Regions from separate parts of the Homo sapiens genome. Here region 1 is linked to region 2. Evidence: fine-mapped expression QTL. A gene starts in region 2. The other region holds a variant in brackets. All regions are shown on one strand. Distances are between the middles of the regions. Region 1 overlaps SYNPR (synaptoporin). Region 2 holds the start of SYNPR (synaptoporin).

Evidence for each region. PIP is the estimated chance that this variant, and not a neighbour inherited with it, causes the effect.
Region 1: its variant is fine-mapped to the expression of SYNPR in cerebellar hemisphere (GTEx, PIP above 0.99). The same link has a PIP of 0.9 or more in cerebellum.

The regions. Positions count from the first base shown.
Region 1 is chr3:63,319,530-63,330,391 of GRCh38, forward strand. All of the region lies in intron 2 of SYNPR (synaptoporin), which reads left to right. Among named protein-coding and RNA genes, the nearest start is that of SYNPR, 47 kb to the left of the region's middle. The variant T/C (reference allele first, on the strand shown) is at 6,019.
Region 2 is chr3:63,274,065-63,282,064 of GRCh38, forward strand. It overlaps SYNPR (synaptoporin), which reads left to right and starts at 4,244. Exons shown (of 6, transcript NM_001130003.2): 1 at 4,244-4,487; 2 at 4,613-4,678. The coding sequence starts at 4,470.

The sequences.
Region 1 (10,862 bases), 47 kb after region 2:
ATTAATAAGATAAACTACCTAGGAATAAACTTAACTCACAAAGTTAAAGATATCTACAATGAAAACTGTAAGACATTGATGAAAGAAATTGAAGAGGACACATAAGAAAATGGAAAAATAGTCCATGTTCATGCATTGAAAAAAAAATTGTTAAAATGCCCATACTGCCTAAAACAATCTACAGAGTCAATGCAATTCCTATCAAAATACCAATGACATTCCTCACAGAGACAGGAAAAATAATCCTAAAATTTAAAAAGAAATTGTCTAAAAGATTATTTTTACCAATTAGAAAGTACTATATCATGTTGTTGTATTGTTCTTTATTTAATCAGTCTCTAATTATGAAGAATGGAGGTTGCTTTTTCTTTTGCTGTCTTATAAATGAGGCTATAGTGAACATATTTAGATATGTATCTATTTTCTTATTCATTTATTGAGACAGGGTCTTGCCCTGTCACCCGGGCTGCAGTGAAATGGTATAATCATGGTTCACTGCGGCCTCAAACTCCTGAGCTCAAGCAGTTCTCCTGCCTCAGCCTCCAGAGTAGGTGGGACTATAGATGTGCAGCACCATACCTGGCTAATTTTTTCTGTTTTTAGTAAAGACAGGGTTTCACTCTATTGTCCAGGATGGTCTAGAACTCCTGGGCTCAAGTGATCCTCCTGCCTTGGCATCCCCAAGTGCTAGGATTATAGGTATGAGCCACCATGCCTGGCCTACATTTATTTTCACTATTTCCTGATTATAATTTCTTAAAATGAAGTTGATGCATCAATGGGAAGTCAGCATAACGAGGCTTAGTCCTTTAAAAAGGTAAAATAGAAAGAACAGAATCATTTTATGGCCACCATATCTTTTGAAAACATTCCTATTCCTTCTGGTAGATACTTGCAGAACAAGCTGAAGAAAGCTATATTCAGTTTTTTAGTGGAACATTGTAAAGCCACACCTTGTAAAAAATTAAAAAGCCTGATATTGAGATCCAAGTACTTCTTCTGCAGTGTGCAACTAGACCAGGAAGGCAGGGACCAGTTCTAGTTCCCCCACTTATGTCCACAGAAATTAGAAAATTACCTGACATATAGCAATAAGTTTGAAAATATTTAATGAATGATTGTGTGAATGAATAAACTTTTATTAACTCATTGGGGTAATAGAACTCTCAGACCCTAACAGTTCGTTTGTACATTTCAGAAACTGTGATTCCTAATTTGTTTAGTGACTTTATTCATGGAAACGGCACCACTTTGAGGGGCAGATACAAATTTTAATCTTAGTTTTGTGATTTACTATGTGGCCTTCATGTTCTGAGTTATCTGTGAAATGAAGTTACACTACTCAGTTTTTCAGAAACACTGCCATCTCAAATAAATTATCATCGAAAACTTGTTCTCTTTCCTCTGCCTTTGATTATGTCAATCTATTAATTTTTGAAAGCCAGAAGCCTTAACAGTGCTAGAAAATATGTATTCCAGAAAAATCAAGGACAACAAGGAGCATTCATTTGAATAAGCATGCTAGACATGGATGTCATTCTTAACCTAGGGCAGCCTAAGTATTTAGACTACAATTTTAGTTTATACCCCCAAGATATTTCTTTCAAATAAAGGGAGGACCTTACGTACTTTTAAACTTAGTTTTAGAAAATATCAATATTTTATTGTAGCATTTTCATTTTGCCAAAATATGACTTCAAGGGCCTTAGTCCATTTCTGACCTTTAACTACAATAGCACTTTTTATTTATCATCTTAGTATAAGAGTAAACATTTTTTATAGTAGAACATGTGGATACTGGAGAAAAGTCCAAAGAAGAAAGTATGTTTTATTCTCTCTCTATTCTTGCTCTGTTGAGAATTGTGAGGGTCAAATATTCCCATAAAAACTGATCTCTATTTCTGGAATAGAATAATGTGATTACTGTTATTATGCGGGTTATGAAAGTCAAGTTATATGTGGGCACAGAAGAAAGAGCAATTAATTTTAAGCCCCTGAATACAGAATACCATGTGTGTCAATATCCCCTGTAAATTGGCCAGTTCCTTAAAAATGGAGTCTGTACTTTATTCTCTCTATAGTCTGAATACCCAATTCATTGCTTAGTACATAGCAGGTGCTTATTATTCAATATCACATAGAGACACAGATAATGCTCTCTGTTCCTCCTTTAGGGAGTAAAGTCTGAAATTATAACCTCATGTCTTTGCACAGAAGTTCTCTGTGTGTTTACAAACACCTCTCCACATGAGTAGCCAATATAAACACAAATAAAATTCCCCTTGAACAAAATCAGTTCAGGGCCTCTTTGCACCGTACATTATAAAGCTCCCAATGGGCCTTCTGAGGTTTCCCTTGAAGAGGTCAACTAAAAAGCAGCCATGTCAGTCTTGCTGGCAGGAAATTAGCAGTTCTCAGCTCTTACAAGTTTGAAATTGTAACTGTTCCTCTTGGGTGTTTACCACTCTTCTGTCACCAAGGGAGTCCACTGTTGTTACCAGCCCAATTAGGTCTATTGCAACAGTAAGTGAGGAGAAACAGCCTCTTGAAATGTCCCTGCTTGGCCAGAATGTTAGGAAAAGCTTCCTGATGGAGGAATAGGATGACACCCAACACTGATGGAGGGTGTGCAGCAATGTTCTGCATTAGTGCCTACAGGAATATAGAGTTTTCATTTGCAACTTTTGTGATGAGCATACAGTTTGTAAAGCACAATGTAGATACTGGAGAAATAATGCATATAAACAGAGGAGGAAGACATACACATTTCAGTGCCACATGTGGACTAGGTACTGTGCTAGGCACTTTACTTTCTCAAACTTATTAATCTCCCATAGATGTTCATGGAGTGGTGTTATTTCCACTTTACAGATCAGGAAACAAAGGCACAAAGGTGAATGGCTCTCCTGAAGTCACATAGTTTAGTGTGAGTAAGTCAGGGCTTAAATCCAGGTTGGCCTGCTACCAAAAATGTATACGCTTGACCACTAGCCTATACTGCCTTCACAAATGTAAATTAATTAAAAGTATTTCTGATTATATGGAGGCTTTTATGTAAAGGTCTCAGGTCTTTAATGCTCACAATGATTCTGTGACTTAGGTGGTCCTGTCCCCATTCTACAAACAAAAAACTAAAGCACAAAGACACAAAGTCACTTGTTCACAATCATTCGACCTTCCAGTTTTGGAGCTTAGGTCTGTGTGGGGCCAAAGACATTCAGTCCTCTGCCTTTGAGAACCTCATCATTGAGGCAAATGTAAACATATACAAAGGAATTTGTAAGTTCTTATGTAAGACCCACTCACTCATTGAGAGTAAAATTTTATGGAAGAGACTACAAAATCAAGAATGCAGCAGCCTCTAAGGGCTCTCTGTGCTATAGGGCATTTCTCCTGCTTAGACATTTTCTTAAGGGACAGGGAGAGGCTTTTTATTGAGGGTTGCCCAGTGAGAGCTTCTTCCAGTAGGCACAGCCATGATAAGAGTAGAAGATAAGACTTTAAGCTCCCAAGAGGCCTCTTTTTCAAGATTCAGAAAAGGCACAAAGCAGGACTAGTTTAAGCACATCAGTAAAATTGAAAATAGCAGGGCTCAAGCTGCAGAGTGACTGTGGAGTTTGCTGGGGAAGAGCTTTTGATGTTTGTTTCTTGCCCAACTGAGCGCTTTTGAGTCAACAATCCTTTCTCATAAGGGCATAATACTCAAAACTGGCCCCAGAGGAAATAAGAAAGAGCCAAAGGTAATGCTATGGACTGATCCACTTTCCAATGGAAAGCCAACCTTCTTTCTTTCCACTTCACAGCTTTAATTCCTAAATTTCTGGGCCTTATGGCAAAAAGGGAGAGGGAAAACTGGATGAAATTTATTCAATTCTACAGGCATTTATTGAGTTTCTACTATGGAGTTAATATGAAGATTAAATCCTTGAACTTCATTACTTAGTTGATAAGATAAAACATACACAGGCCAGAAAATCTCAGGTGTGTTGGAAAGTACTTCTTTATACTCCCCAAATAATTTTTTTTTGGCATTGTTTTTTGCTGAGACATGATGGAAGACTTTTGGAGAAGGAAACACTTGAGCATTTGATCAGAGTTCAAAGACTGTAGGACCTGGAGAATTACAAATAAAAGAGTAAGGTTTATAGGGTGGTTCTAGAATAGACAAAGAAAAGAAAAACAAAAGCAAAAATGCAAATAAAATTTAAAATGTACATTCAAAGAGAGTATATTAAAATAAGGTGATAATAGGACAGGAAATTATATTTACTTTTCCTTAGCACTTTGTTCCAAGAATTGTTGTTTTTCACATGCATTCTCTCATTTAATACTCACAACATTCCCATGAGGCAGTTATTATTATTTCCATTTTACTGAGAAGGACAGTGAAGCCCAGCATGATGAATAACTTGCCCAACTTGCACAATAAGTAGCAGAGTCAGCATTTAAACTCAGTCTTATTACAAAGTCCTAATGTTTAGCCACCTATAGTATACTGCTTCAATAAGCATGGCAGCTGGAATATTGGCCAATAATGAAAAATGATGCTGAAAATTTAATTGCAATTATTGTAACTGTCACTTGTGTCTAATGAGTATTTTCAGTGCAAAGGTACTAGGCAAATTATTTTTATTTAACTCAATCCCTACAACAGTTGTGTAAGTATTATTAATCTCATTTTAAGATGAGTGAACTGAAAGAGTGGCCACCTTGATGAAAAGATATTAAGAAAGCAGAGAACCTGAGCTTTGAACTAGTATCAGTGACCTCAACCTGAACTCTTAACCATTACAATGTATGGCTTCTCAAGACTGGGATCAGACAATAAAGAGCCTTGAAGGCTAAGCCAGGAAATTTGCATTTATCCTGTAGCCAACGGGGAAACACTGAAAGTTTGTGAGCTGGGAGGTGACATGGCTTGATTTGGGCTTTTGGAGGATTAATCTGGAATCAGCATAAGATAGATTATAGAATGGAAAATCAGAACAGAGGGACCAATTATGGGACTACTGCACCAGTCCATGTAAGACGACTTATCCAGTGAGATGTGTGGTCCAGGTGAGTGGTCTTGAAAGCCCAATATAGACTACTAAGAGGAGAGAAAGGAAATATATAGTATTGGGTTTATAAATTACAAGAGTCCTCTTTGGTGCTTTGAAATCTGGATCTCCTACTAGAAAGGGAAGCTGCCTGCAGTGGAATCTGCTCACCAGGCAGCAAGTTGAGCTAGCTATTTAGTATGGAGAGGACCTGGAGCTGTGATTACCAGACACTGGGTTGCAGCTGCAGCCACCCAGAATTAGCCTGGCCAGATGGTGACGGGTAACTGACTGTTCTACACGGACCTCAGGAGAGAGCACAACAAATACCACAAGCAAGAGGCACATGTTTTCCTATGAACATATCAGAAAATTTTCTTTGAGAGTTTCTGATTCTCTCAAGGCATTTTTCCCTCATAATGCCTCAGTTACACTAACTCAGGTTGAGAATGGTGAAGAATGCTTTATGAAAATCAGAGTTGTTTTTTAATGAGGCCATCTGGTGAGCCTTCTGCATTTATATCCTCTTCTCCCAACAGGTTAGAAGCTGAAAAATTCTCTGCTAGTATAGTATTAGTAGAAATTATTTATAGTATGGCAGAACAGCCACTGTAATTACAACTTAATTCTTAGGTGACAAGAGACAGAACGTTAATTAGATCTTGCAGATAATAGTAATGACCATTCACATGTACCAAGCATTTGCTCACATGTAATAGGTATGAATTCTTAGCATCACTCACTTGGGGTACACAAGAAACATAATTTTCATTAGTTTCTTTAATAAAATAATTTGAACCTACAACCTACCTAGTGGTCAGAACATCATCTACACACTCTCAGGAAAGGTCCGATGCAGCATGTGTTAGTCACTCAGGTACAAAATGTAATCATATTCACCTTCTCCAATTTATTCCCCCTTTCTACCCAGGAAAGATCCTAAGCCCAGGATCTTACTGAGGTGCCAACCTGGTGACAG[T/C]AGGGAGTGGCTAGCTGGTTCTCCATCTGGACCTGGCAGGGCCCCTGCTGGCCTCCTACACTCAGTGTAAATTCATTTAGTCAGATTTCAACACACTCCAAATGGAGACTGAGCAAATTCCCAGTTTGGATTTGTCCCCATTTGACTCCTGGCTTAGGTAACCTTGGAAAGTAATGTCTGTCCTCCCATCATTCTCGGTGGAAACTGTCCATCCACACAGCTGACATCTGACACAGAGCTCCTTGTCCCCACAACTGGACCCTGTGCAAGCCCATGCATCTTTCCTTCTCAACTAGCTTTCACTTCCTGCTGAAGATAGGGAAGCTTTGGGTACCTCATCTCCACAACACTCTGGGGCTCTAGGAGACGTGGGCTATAAAAGTGGATTCATTCTGTCTCCACATCCCTGCATGTCCAAGATAGAACCAGAAGATGAGAAATTGTCATTTTTATTCATTGGTCCATTTCTGAAGAACCCCAGTCCCAGAGCAAATGGTGACCCCATGTTTCTCTGCTTGAATGAGGATGAGGTGGGAGAATAAAAGAAGAAATTGGTTGACAATTCAAGTTTGCCATACCCACACACATGATCTTATTTGATCTTCACAGCACCTCTTGGTAGCAGGAATGATGACTTTATTGATGAGAAAAATGAGGCTTAGAAAAGTTAAGGGACATGTTAAAGATCCCATTGAAGTCAATGGCAGTGTAGGAGTGTGGACATATCTGCCTGATTGTGGAGGATGAGCTCTTAACCAACACCCAACAGACAGCAGAGGCTGAAGCTGGCCACAGGACCTCACTTAGTATTCATTTCTCAGGTTATATATAAGGGATTGTGTGTGAATCAAAATACCTTACAATAAGTCTACTTTATTCTTCCATCACCAGCTGTTAGGGACAATAATGAAGCCATGTCTGCATTGGGAAGGTCTCCTTCGTAACAAATAGGATTATACTGAGATTGCAATGGGCATCACCATTCCTTATATATAAAAAGGAACTCCAGAGGGCCACTGGTTGGAATCATACTTTGTTCATTCCAGATCACTGAGTGTCCAGTCTTATCTAGAAGCCCAGAAGCCAGATGCTGGTCCTTGGTCTTCTATCTTCTCATAGTGATGGCCTGAAATCAGTGTCTTCTGCATTATTTATCAGTTTCTCTCTCTGTTAAATAGCAGCACCAAGAAAGGGAGTTGTGATTGCTGGTAACTTTGAAATCTTCAAAAGAAAGCCAAGTTCCTGGTAAGAATCAGACTTAGTAACTCATGGAAGTAATTGAAGGGTTGTGCTTGTACTCTTTCTAATTAAGTTTACATTGGGCAAATTTTAAGAAGTGTAATTTGGAAATGTTCTTAATTTCAATGGCCATCAGATTCATTTCCATGTTCCTAAATTTTACCAAAGCCAATAATAATACTTTCTCAATCCATTAAAAGACTACTTTCCTCATAGAAAAAAAAAAATGAACCACTGACACTTTACTTTTAGATTTCCTGTTTCATTTTGTTAGTGACTAGATATATATTAATTACTAACTATGTAAAAGTTGCAATCATTAGTGCAAATTGGGAGGGGAAATAGTTATTGGCAATGAAGGAAGTGTAAAGTAGAATGGAGATAAATATATACATTATAAAAGAAAATGTGATCCCACCAAAATAACCCAAATGAAAAGGACAATACCAAGTGACAGCAAGGATATAGAACAACTAGAACTTTTTTACACTGTTGGTAGGAGTGTAAATTGATATAACTTTGGATAACCTCAGCAGTACCTACTAAAGTGGGTATATGTATATGTTGAAATGAAATGTACATATATGTTATCATGTATATGTGGTACATGTAATACCTATTTATGTATTGTGTATGTGTGTTTATATCTAGCTATATGTATTATAAATGTATTATGTCCAAACAATTCCATTCTTAGGTATGTTTCCCAAAAGACACAAATAAGTGTGTTCATAACAGAATTTATAAAGCCACAAATGCTTATCAGTAGCATGATGAACAAATACATTTTGGTATATTTATGCATTTGACTTACAGTGATGAGAATGGACAAACTATGAGTTTACACAACATGAATGAATTTCACCCAAAAAAACTGAGCAAAAGAAACTAGATACAAAAGACAGTACAATATATAATTCAATTTGTGTTCAAAAATATTTTTAAAAAACACATTGTGGTATTAGAAGTTAGGACAGTAGCTAACTTTTGGTGGTTAGAGGTTAAGGAAGGGGCTTCTGGGGTTCCAATAATATATTATTTCTTGATCTAGGGATTGAGTAATAGGTGTGTTCACCCTCTGAAAATTCATTGAGCTGTTTTACACTTTTCTGCATGTATGTAATATATCAAGAAATTCACCTTAAAAAAGGCAATGTGTGAAAAGGATCAGGAGAGGCACAGATGGAAAAAGCAGGACAAAGTAAATATTGTTAGCAAATTAATTGGGCATAAATTGCAAAATATTATTTAAATGAGGAATGCCACATATGCTGAATTTAAAATACATTTTAGTGTCCCCATGATTAGGTTTTAACATGACTTTTAAGAAATTCTACAAATCTCACATCTACCACAAGACCAGTTATATAATTCAAGATGCTCAGTACTAAGCCATTAAAAAAAATTCAACACACTCTCAGAAAAACTGTGATATTCACAAAATGAGAGTGCCTTCTCAGGTTTCCCTTTATCCTCAGGTTGCAAAAGCTCAGAGCCTCATCTCCCTTTCTGGGAATGTCCAGAATCTTGTATTCAGGCTGCACATTTCCCCACAATTAGGTGACCTGTTTAGCATTGCTAGCCTGAGTCAGTCCATTTCATATCAAATGAGACTGGTCTATATTTAAAAGAAGGAATTCATAATGTACCAGTGTGATCTAGGAGTTTAATCACTGGGTTGAGTGCTCCAGGCCCCAGTTCCCCTAACATGCCTGTCTCCCTGGCTTTGACTCACAATCATGTGTTTTGTAAATGCACAAGGCAATGAACATAAAAGCAAAATTGCTGGTGACTAAGAATAGTAGCCAGCAGCCCTGGGAAGAATGCAGTGCTCTGGGGCTTAGCAGGAGAGCTGTGGATGCCTGGACACTGTGGACCTGAAAAATAAACATCCAATTGGAGAGTTGATGTGACCTCAGAGGAACCTGGGGGCCACAGCTCTGAATTCCCCAGAGCTGGTACTTGAATCTACTATGGCTAAATAAACTTGCCACATTTATTGGTGGCTTCTGTTTAAACACGAGTATTACAGTGGTGGCTTTATTTTCTTCTACCTTTTATTGATTATAATGTCCATGAGAGGTCAGGACCTGTTTTCTCAAATTGACCGCCACATCTCCAGCAGTTATTGAAAAAGCTGTACACTAGTCATCGCACAATATGTTTATTTGAATTATTTGAATACAATCTATAAGTCAAATCTAGCCTGAGAGTTATCTCAGCTATCACAGTTCTAAAAATAGGAGCAGTCTCCTAGTTCTTAGGTGGTATAAAAGTAATAACTATTATCAACGAGCCAAGAAAAACACACTTTCTCTCCACGTAAACAAATGAAAGAATTTGACTATTCAGCAAACTGCCTCTCAAGTGACAACATGGCATTGTTTAAATATTAAAAATAATATTTATGTTTAATACATTATTTTATTATGAGAGTTTATTATGTATCAGTCACAAAGCTGGTCACTTAACCTACATTATAGTTTAATTATCACAGCAATTTAATGGGGTAGCTACTCTTCTTAGCCCTATTTTACGGGTGGGAAAACTGAGACACAGAGAGGTAACTACCCCAAAGTGGCACAGCTGTTTAGTGGTTGAGCCAGGATTTGAACCCGGAATCTAAATCTAGTCCTTTAACCAACCTGCAATGCAAACCCTCACCCAAGACATCACAACACAGCAATTAAAATTGGAGAAAATGGAATGAGTTTGTTCCTAATCCAGTTAATTTCCCTGAATTAGAGAAAATCTCAAAATGTAATGTAATACATTTCTTGAGGAGAGGACTATGCTCTCTGATGACTAGTAATGTTGGCCATACGTCTTAAGACTATTTTTACACCTGCATCCTGAGGCAATTGAAAGAGTCCCCTTCAACTCACGAATGTGTCTCTGGGTAATAAATCATATGGCTACCCTATGAACACATTTGCCTTTTCCAGAAATGTCAAAACTTTCTCAAGTAAAGCTAGAATAGAGACTAATTCGAGGATGAGATCAATTTTTTCATCTAACCCAGGACTCAAGACTAGAAATTCGCTGTCCAGGTACCTCTGGGTTTTACCCACAAAGGGGTCCTTTGCTTGGCCTAGCAGCTGCCTCTCTTATCTGCCCCTTATTAAAGGAGGAAAGTAAATATCACAGCACAGTGTTCTGATATCAGGTTGTGTACAGGAGAGCATGTAACCCCTTGTTCCCAGGGTCTGGACATCCCTGCAGGTATTTTAGCATCAACTCGGGCTGGCTGGGCTGAGAGCAACTTGTTTTCTGGCTTATGTAGGCTCACCTGTGCCTGGTGTCAAGAAGCTCAGTGACTCTTTCTGGACTCAGAAGTGCCTCTCAGCCCTCAGGAGCCTTTTCTCCAGCAAATGTACCCTATGGAAAAGTAGTCCTTGATCCAATCAGTTATTTGTTGACTGGACTGGGTCAGTTTCCTCTAGGTTCTACTGGTGCATTCTTCTGGAATACATGACTTCAAGGACAGACCTCTACATGTGAGTTTTCTAATTGTAAGTGTCAAAAGCTTTACTCAAACTTGCTTAAGGAAAATAACACTACCACCAAGAGAACTTTAAAATGTATGTTCAAATTCCTACTCAATC
Region 2 (8,000 bases):
GGTTAGCAGCATGAGCAGAGAGTTAAATATACAACATTTTGACAGACTTCCACTCATTTCCATTATTTTAGATTTCATAACATACGGGTAGTGTTTCCTCCTGTATTAAGTTGCTGCAGATAAAGTTTTAAATTAGTTTTTTGTCTTTGTCACAAAAGACATGGGAATATGAAACCCAGGTATATTTTCCTATGAGAACAAGATTTAATTAGCCTGAATAATGCAAGTTCTTCTATTGCAGCTTGGTAGTTTGGTTTGTATAGTTTGACTCAAGATTAACCCTCTTTGAGATTCAAAATGCTTGGTTTTGTTACTTGATTTTCATTTGCGAACAAGGTATATTTTCCTATGAGAACAAGATTTAATTTGCCTGAATAATGCAAGTTCTTCTATTGCAGATTGGTACTTTGGTTTGTATAGTTTGACTCAAGATTAACCCTCTTTGAGATTCAAAATGGTTGGTTTGTAACTTGATTCTCATTTGCTGATTTAGCAAATGTTGAGCTTTACTAAATTGGGCTGAATGTATTTCTTACTACAGTGTAAGCTTTGGGAAGACAGGAAACTTGGCAAGCTGTTTACAGTATCTAGAACAGTACCAGGGCACAATAGGCACTCAGCCCTTACTTGCTGAAGTTTCTCTACCTTGGCACCATTGACATTTTCCAGATAATTCTTTGTTTTGAGTAACTGTCCTCTGAATTGTAGGATATTGAGCAGCATCTCTTGCTTCTGCCCTCTGGAAGCCAGTAGTGTCATCTCCATCCCCTGCCCCCACCTCGTTGTGACAATCAAAATGTCTCCAAACATTGTTACATGTTTTCCAGTGGCGGGAAGGGCCCAAATCACCCTCTATTGAGAACCAGAGGACTGCAGTAAATAAATGGATTGCCTTGGCATATCAAAGGAAGTATTCATAGCTATGGGTCCCTGGCTCAAAACAAAAGAGAATTTGGAAATTATTTGATTTACATAATCAACACTGGCCACTAAAATGGATCATTTATGCCCCACCAAAGTTAACTTTATCCTTCATCTATCATGATAGATTCATCATAGTAAGAGGGAAATTATCTTTCATCATCTTGGGGCAAAAGATAATGGGTCACCCTTAACCACTGATAGTAATATTGTGGCAGTGTTTATATCATCTGTCCTATCTCCCCTAATCTAGTTCTTTAGGGAACCCAATGTTATTTCCAGGTCTGAATACAGAGGTTCTAACCCAAAGTCTACAAAATATTTAACATTGCAAATGTGATATGAAACTCTGGGTTATTTTGGTGATGCAGCTGTTGGAAGCTCATACATTTCTGGAATAGGAAAAGCATCCTCTGACAATGTGCAATTGTTGTCTAAGCTATTACACTGCCATTTGCCACAATTCTGACTTCCTTCACATGGTGTTTGGAGAACTGGAAAAAAATATGCCACCATATTAGTCAGAAGGAACACTGGGTGTGAAGAGAGCCCTGAGGGAATAGGCTCAGTAATCACACTTCCTCTGTGCCAAGTTTTCAATTCAAATAATCTGCAAGTAGGCAATATTTTAAATAAGTCTCTTTCCCTGTATAAAGAGATATAAATATGTAGATGACCTTAGGCATGTTACATAGCCATTCTAAGGCTGGATATACTATCTAGAAAAGGGGAAATTATTATGATACTTAAATGATGTATATAAAGCACTTAGCACAATGCCTGGCAGGTAGCAGGAACTAAACTGGTAATAGGTATTACAATAATAATTATCGTTATTAAGCATATGGAGGAGATGTCATACCCTGTAAGCTGGTTGACTACCATGCAAAGAGGATGAACACAAGGACCATGAGATCATACGAACCTAGGGTGAAATTTTGGTTCGGCTACTTTACTAGCTGTGTTATCAGTCGGCTTAGGTTATGTTGTGCTGCAGTAACAAAAGACCTAAATTTTTCAGTTGCTTACACCCCAAAATGCATTTTTTGTTTGCTCAGCTTCATGTCCATCAAGGTCTGGTTGCAGATCTGCCTATGTCATCCTTACACTGGGACCCAAGCTGTCAGAGTAACCTCTATATAGAAATTATATTCATCGTGGTAGAAGGAAATAAGTTGGCAAATCACTTGGTGGTTCTTAAAACTTCTGCCCAGAAATGCACACATTACCAATAAAATGCCCACATTTTACTGGTCAAAACAAGACACATGGCTACTGCTGGGTCCAAAAGGGCAAGGATATATAGATGTTGAGGTGCACTGTTGAGGGCAGCAGGACATTGCTACAATCTACCCTGCCTCTGATATGGACCTCTGAGTCTTCCCCTTTGCTTCTATAGAAGTGATATGTAACTAATACATGCTGAGGGCTTATGAAATGCAGACTGCCCTAGATGGGCTATCTGCAAAATCTCATTGGGTTCTCACAAAAAACAGTTAAGATAGGTATTTTGGCTCCATTTTACAGATTAAAACAAAGAAACAAACTGAGGTCTTGAAGAGGTTAAGTAACTTCCCCCATAAGATCATATACATACATGGTAGGGTACACACTAAGTAATTGATAGTGTTAGTTCCCCCCACCCCTCCCCCATAGTTGCATAATGGCTTATTTTTGAAACAACTGTTTCTAATTGTTTTAGGCTCTATCTGCATGTAGGAAGAGCAGTAGGAACAAAACTGGCTGACTGCAGATGGTGCAACCAGTCCACTGGAGTTCCTACTCTCTAAATTTCTAGTTTTTCTGCAGCAAAATTCATGAGCAGGGGGCATTTACACTAGAAGCTGCCTCCCCCTCCCAGACAGCAAATTACTGATTTCCGTATTTCTCATCTACTTCTACATATCAAATACCCACCCCCCCCACCAACACACACATACACACCCATGAACTCCAAACCTTTTTGGCAAATCTTTATAGTAAACAGATGGACTATCTGTGTTGCTGGGAGACCACTCATAAATGGAATCCAGTCCAAAGGGAGTGAGAAGGAAGAGGACATATCACTACTTGATGTAGTAGCTAAGAGCTCTCCTCTCCTTCTTCTTCTTCCTCCTCTTCCTTTTTTCCCCTTCTTCTTCTTTTGTTTTTCTGATTTTAAAAAAATCAATTCTGACTTCACTACCTGCTAGCTGGGCAACCTTGGGCAGGCCACTATCCTTCCATGGGCCTCAATTTCCTCATCTCTAAAATGGGAATAATATTATTATTAACTTATGGGGGTTTGTGAATATTGAATGAAGTAATGTTTGTAAAGCCCTTAGCACAGTTTTCAGCTCATAGAAAGAACTCACTTGTTTGGTTGTTGTTGTTTTTATTATATTCAGCAAGATTAGCCCACTAAGAGTAAACAACGTGAACCACCTTTCACTAAGTTTCAAGAAAACAGTCTAACTTTGGAGGAGGGACCCAGTGTTATATTTATGAGTTTGACAAGGGAGTTCATTTGGGGGTCAGATATCAGGCAAAAGATCTCAGTAGAAATAAAATGAGTTTGAAAGGTACCTAAATTTCATTCCCTGTTTAGCCTTTCATGAGATGTTTTACCTTGGCCATTTCATCCTTGCTAAATCTGTTTTCCACTGGCGCATGGTCCCACATTCAAGATTAATTTGTTTCCACCTCTTCTCTCCAGGCAGTTTCCTCTGTCCTGGTCCTCTCTCTGGCATCCACAGGCCAAGATGGATCCCCTGCCCTGTGCCCATGGCCCCTGTGCTCTGCTCTGCGCCACTGTCCAGACCACATTGCAAGTTATTTTTCCCCTTTTGCTTCCCCTGGGGGAAGTGACAATGCTTATCCTGTTTTTTTGATGTACCCCAGCACCTAAGCACTGCCTGCCCACAGGAAGGATGCTCCATAAAGGCTTGAAGGAATGAATGAAAGAGCCAACAAATAGTTATTTTTTTATTTTTATGTATTTATCATTATTATTATTTTGCTGTTTGGAAGTCATCAGAACTCACACAGATGTCTCAGGTAAAGTGTGGGTGTCTTCCTCCTACCTGGAAACCCCTTCTTCAGGTGGACAGCCGTCTTGCTGATGGTGCCAAGCCCGCTTTCCCAAACCAACAGACCCAAAGTTTCCCCGGAGCCAGAGGGCACCGGGCGCACGGCTGAGCCTGCACCAATGTCTGTGGGCCCTGCCTCGCCCACCTCCTCGCCCTCCCCTCTGGAGCGCGGCTGGCCAATGACAGCCTTCCCCTGGCTCCATGGGTTTCCCCCTCCCCTGTTGTATCTACCCTGCCCCAGCTCTTCCCTGCCCACCCCTCGCTGACTCGCTTCGCTTCCCCGACGCGCTGGGTTCCCGGAGCGCAGAGCCCAGCGTTAGCGGGTGGGCTCCCCGAGGCCCCCTGCCCTCGCCGGGCTGCTCCAGGGTGTCGCTCCTCTGGCTGCTCCCGAAGGGGCTTCTGGCCCTGAGGACGGTGGTGCCAAGCGAACTTCATTTTTAAAAAGAACTGGTGGATGAGAAGAGCGAGCGAGGGCGAGCTATGGACCCTGTGAGTCAGGTGAGACAGAACTGGGCAGGGCGGCTGGCTGGGAGCAGGGGGCGGGGGATGCCGCGGCTTGGGAGAGGCGCCCCCAGCCCCTTCCTCACGCTTTGCTTTCTCTCTCTCGCCTCATTCCCCCAAAGCTGGCCTCTGCGGGCACCTTCCGGGTGCTGAAGGAGCCCCTTGCCTTCCTGCGAGCCCTGGAATTGGTGAGTAGCAGTGTGTGTGCAGGGAGGGGCGCCAGGCAGCCAGCTATCAGGTGAGGAGAGGTCGGATGGGGTGCTCCCTGCTCAGTTCTGCTCCAAGCCGGAGATTCAACCCTCAAGCCGGGGATTTCAATCCTGCCCCCTCCTAAGATGCCGTTCCAAGGTGGTGAGGACAAAATCGAGGCACCCTGCTTGGAGGCGGGAGTGTGGACGCATTTTTGCAGGGGCTTAGACAAGTGTCGTCTCACCTCACCGCTTGCAGACGCGCAGGGGCTGTGGAAAGAAACCTCCCCCTTGGGAGATAGGGGAGGGGGGCGCATGGAAGGGCTGCCGCTGGGTTCTGGCCCCTCACCTGGACCTTCGTGGGGATGAGGGGATGGGTGGAGGGACCCATAGTTGAGCGGAGGAGCCGGGAAGACTTGGCCAAGCTCAGAAAGTTGGTCAGAACTGAGACAGCTCCTCTGCGGGACTGGGATGCTGGAAGCGCGTGTTCAACTGCTCCGCGGGAGCTTCAGGGAGGGAAAGATGCTGCGAAGCTATTACAGACTGTTATAAACGGCGGCGGGTAGAGAGCAGAACTCCTTCCTTCCCTACTATAGTTTCTTTTCTCTGGCCACTCCTCTAGGGCTTTTCTGATTATACCCAGAAGAGCCCACCAGCCTGTTTGCCATGGCTTTCTTCAGCGACTGGGCTTTAGGAAGTTGTATTCCACTTCCGTGAAACCACCCTGACGCTCTTATTGCAATTTGTCTATGGGCAGAGGAGTGAGGCACAGAAACGGTTACCCACAGGGCCACAGAGCCATGTCAGTGTTGTTGGCTGGATGATGGTTATTCAGAATGAAATCTGCAGGTCACACGTTTCGTCTTGCTAGGAACTCCAAAAGGCAAGCAAACCTATCTGAATAGAAAGTTCAAAGCCTGTCATGTAGCATTAATCAGAGTCCCTAACACTGACTAGCTGGGAAATTATGTAAGAGCCTGTTCTCTGTTCCCAGATCTTAGCTCCAAGGGCTTATATCTGGCAGTGGCTACATAACTGTGATGATTGTTTACACGGATGATCTACAAGATAATTACATTTACCTTGTTTGTAGACTTGAATGAAAATGTATGCGTATATCAATATTGCATACACCAGGACAGCTTTTGGAAGGCTTGAATTAGTGGTTCAGAGCTGGCTATTCTGAAACTGTTTCCCTTACAGTCAAGTTAAACAAGCAAGCAATCCTCACAGTTCTGGAAACTTTCAGTTTGCTTTCTCAGAATTCTGCCCGCATTCATTCATTCAGCCATTCAATAAATATTTCCTGTGAAGTAGTGGCCTTTAGGGAAGAAAATAATAGCTCCATTGTCAAGCTATTATCTCTCAAAACCAAGTTCAAAGAGCTGACATCATTTTCTGACATAATCTCTTATTGTCTCACACGCTCACCTATCTGAAATATTAGTTCGTGTACACACCAATACTGTGGCAACATGATTTTGTGCCATTGTTCCTCACACAGCCTCTACTGCTATATAAAAAGGTGTTTGTTATCTGGATGAACTTGTTCAAATTACAGGTTTCAGGCTACCAAATCAAAATATTGATAAGATGGGTGCCCATGAATCTGCATTTTAAATGAGCTCCCTGCGTAACTCTTATCCATGTTATAATTGGAGAACCACCACTCTAAGCTATACCAGATCCCTCCAAAACTCAAAAGCCCCTTTTACCTCAGTGCCCTTGCTATTTCTATTCACACTGTATGGAATGTCCTCACCTTCCAAGCCTAAAAAAAAAAAAAATGTTTGTTTTTTACCTCAACTAAATGTTACCTCCTCAATGAAGACTTTTCTCGTATTTATTCCTTCCTCTTTCCTCTATCCCAAGCTGAATGATTCACCTCGTTCTTTGAACTTCCACTAGATTTTTATTCATTCACTCATAAGAATTTATCACACTGCAAAATACCGTTTTATAGCTCCCCCCCTTGGGGGAGGGGTGTGTGTGTGTGTGTGTGTGCACAGGTGATGTGTGTGTGTGAGAGAAAGAGTGAAATAGAATAAAGGTTACTAAGTTACTACATTTAAATTATTTGCAGTCCTTCCCCTCTCTCTTCCAGGATTCTAAGGCTCGAAGGAGGAAGGGCTTTTTGCTTGTACCTCAGTAATTAGACTCTCATTTGTGGAAAAGAACATGAATAATGGACAAAGCAAATTTTAAAAGTTAGATAAGTTAGTTGGTTGACCTACATTTTAAAAGAGCTGAGCTAGAGACATGAGGAGAGAGTACTAGTTGCTGAAAAAGCTAGTAGTGAACAGAGGGAAAGAACATACATTTTGTGTGCACACAATGGCTTGAGGAGGCACTCTGAGGTATCTTTTTCTGTAGGAGATATTGACAATGACAGGAAATGTGATTTCTTATAGATGGTAGAACATTTCTTCTGTTTGTCTCTGTTTCCCTCACTGGTTCCTTTCATAGCGCTTGGTTAAACAGCAAGTAATCAGCAAAAATTGTAAACCGGTAATGACAGAGCACTTAAAATATCCCAGTTTATCCTGTTTCTGTGAAAGTTTTACAAAGCAATGGAGAGCAGCTTTAAACTTGACAGTGTCTTTAAGCTGCAATTTCCCCATGCTGTAGAAATAAACATGCATGTAAAGATATATGTATCTTAGTTTTGGGGGTTGCTATAACAAAACACCATAAACTGGATAGCTTATACACAACAGAAATTTATTTCTCATAGTTCTGAATACTGGAAAGTCTAAGATCAAGGTGCCATCAGATTCGTTGTTTAGTGAGGGCCTACTTTCTGGTTCACAGATGGAGCCTTCTTGCTGTGTCTTCTCATAGCAGAAGGGAAGAACTCTGATCTCGTCTGTCCCTTATAAGAACACTAATCCCATTCACAAGGGCTCCACATTTATGAGCTAATCACCTCCCAAAGGCCCCACCCCCTAAGACCATCACTTTGGGAACTATATTTCAACATGTGAACTTGGGGGGAGGCATAAACATTCAGATAATAGCAATATTCTCAAGAATATTTATTGCAACATCATCTGTAGTGAAAAGAACTGGAAATAACTAGTAAGTCCATTATAAGAAAATAATTAAAGTATGATTCATCATGTTATGAAATATTATATTGCCATCAAAAAGAATGAATTAGCCAGGGATGGTGGCTCATGCCTATAATCTCAGCACTTTGGGAGGCTGAGATGGGAGGATTGCTTGAGCCCAGGAGTTCAAGACCAGCCTAGCCAACATAGGGAAGCTGTGCAATTCTGGAACATATTAATTAAAATATGGCTTAACATATAGTGAATTTCTA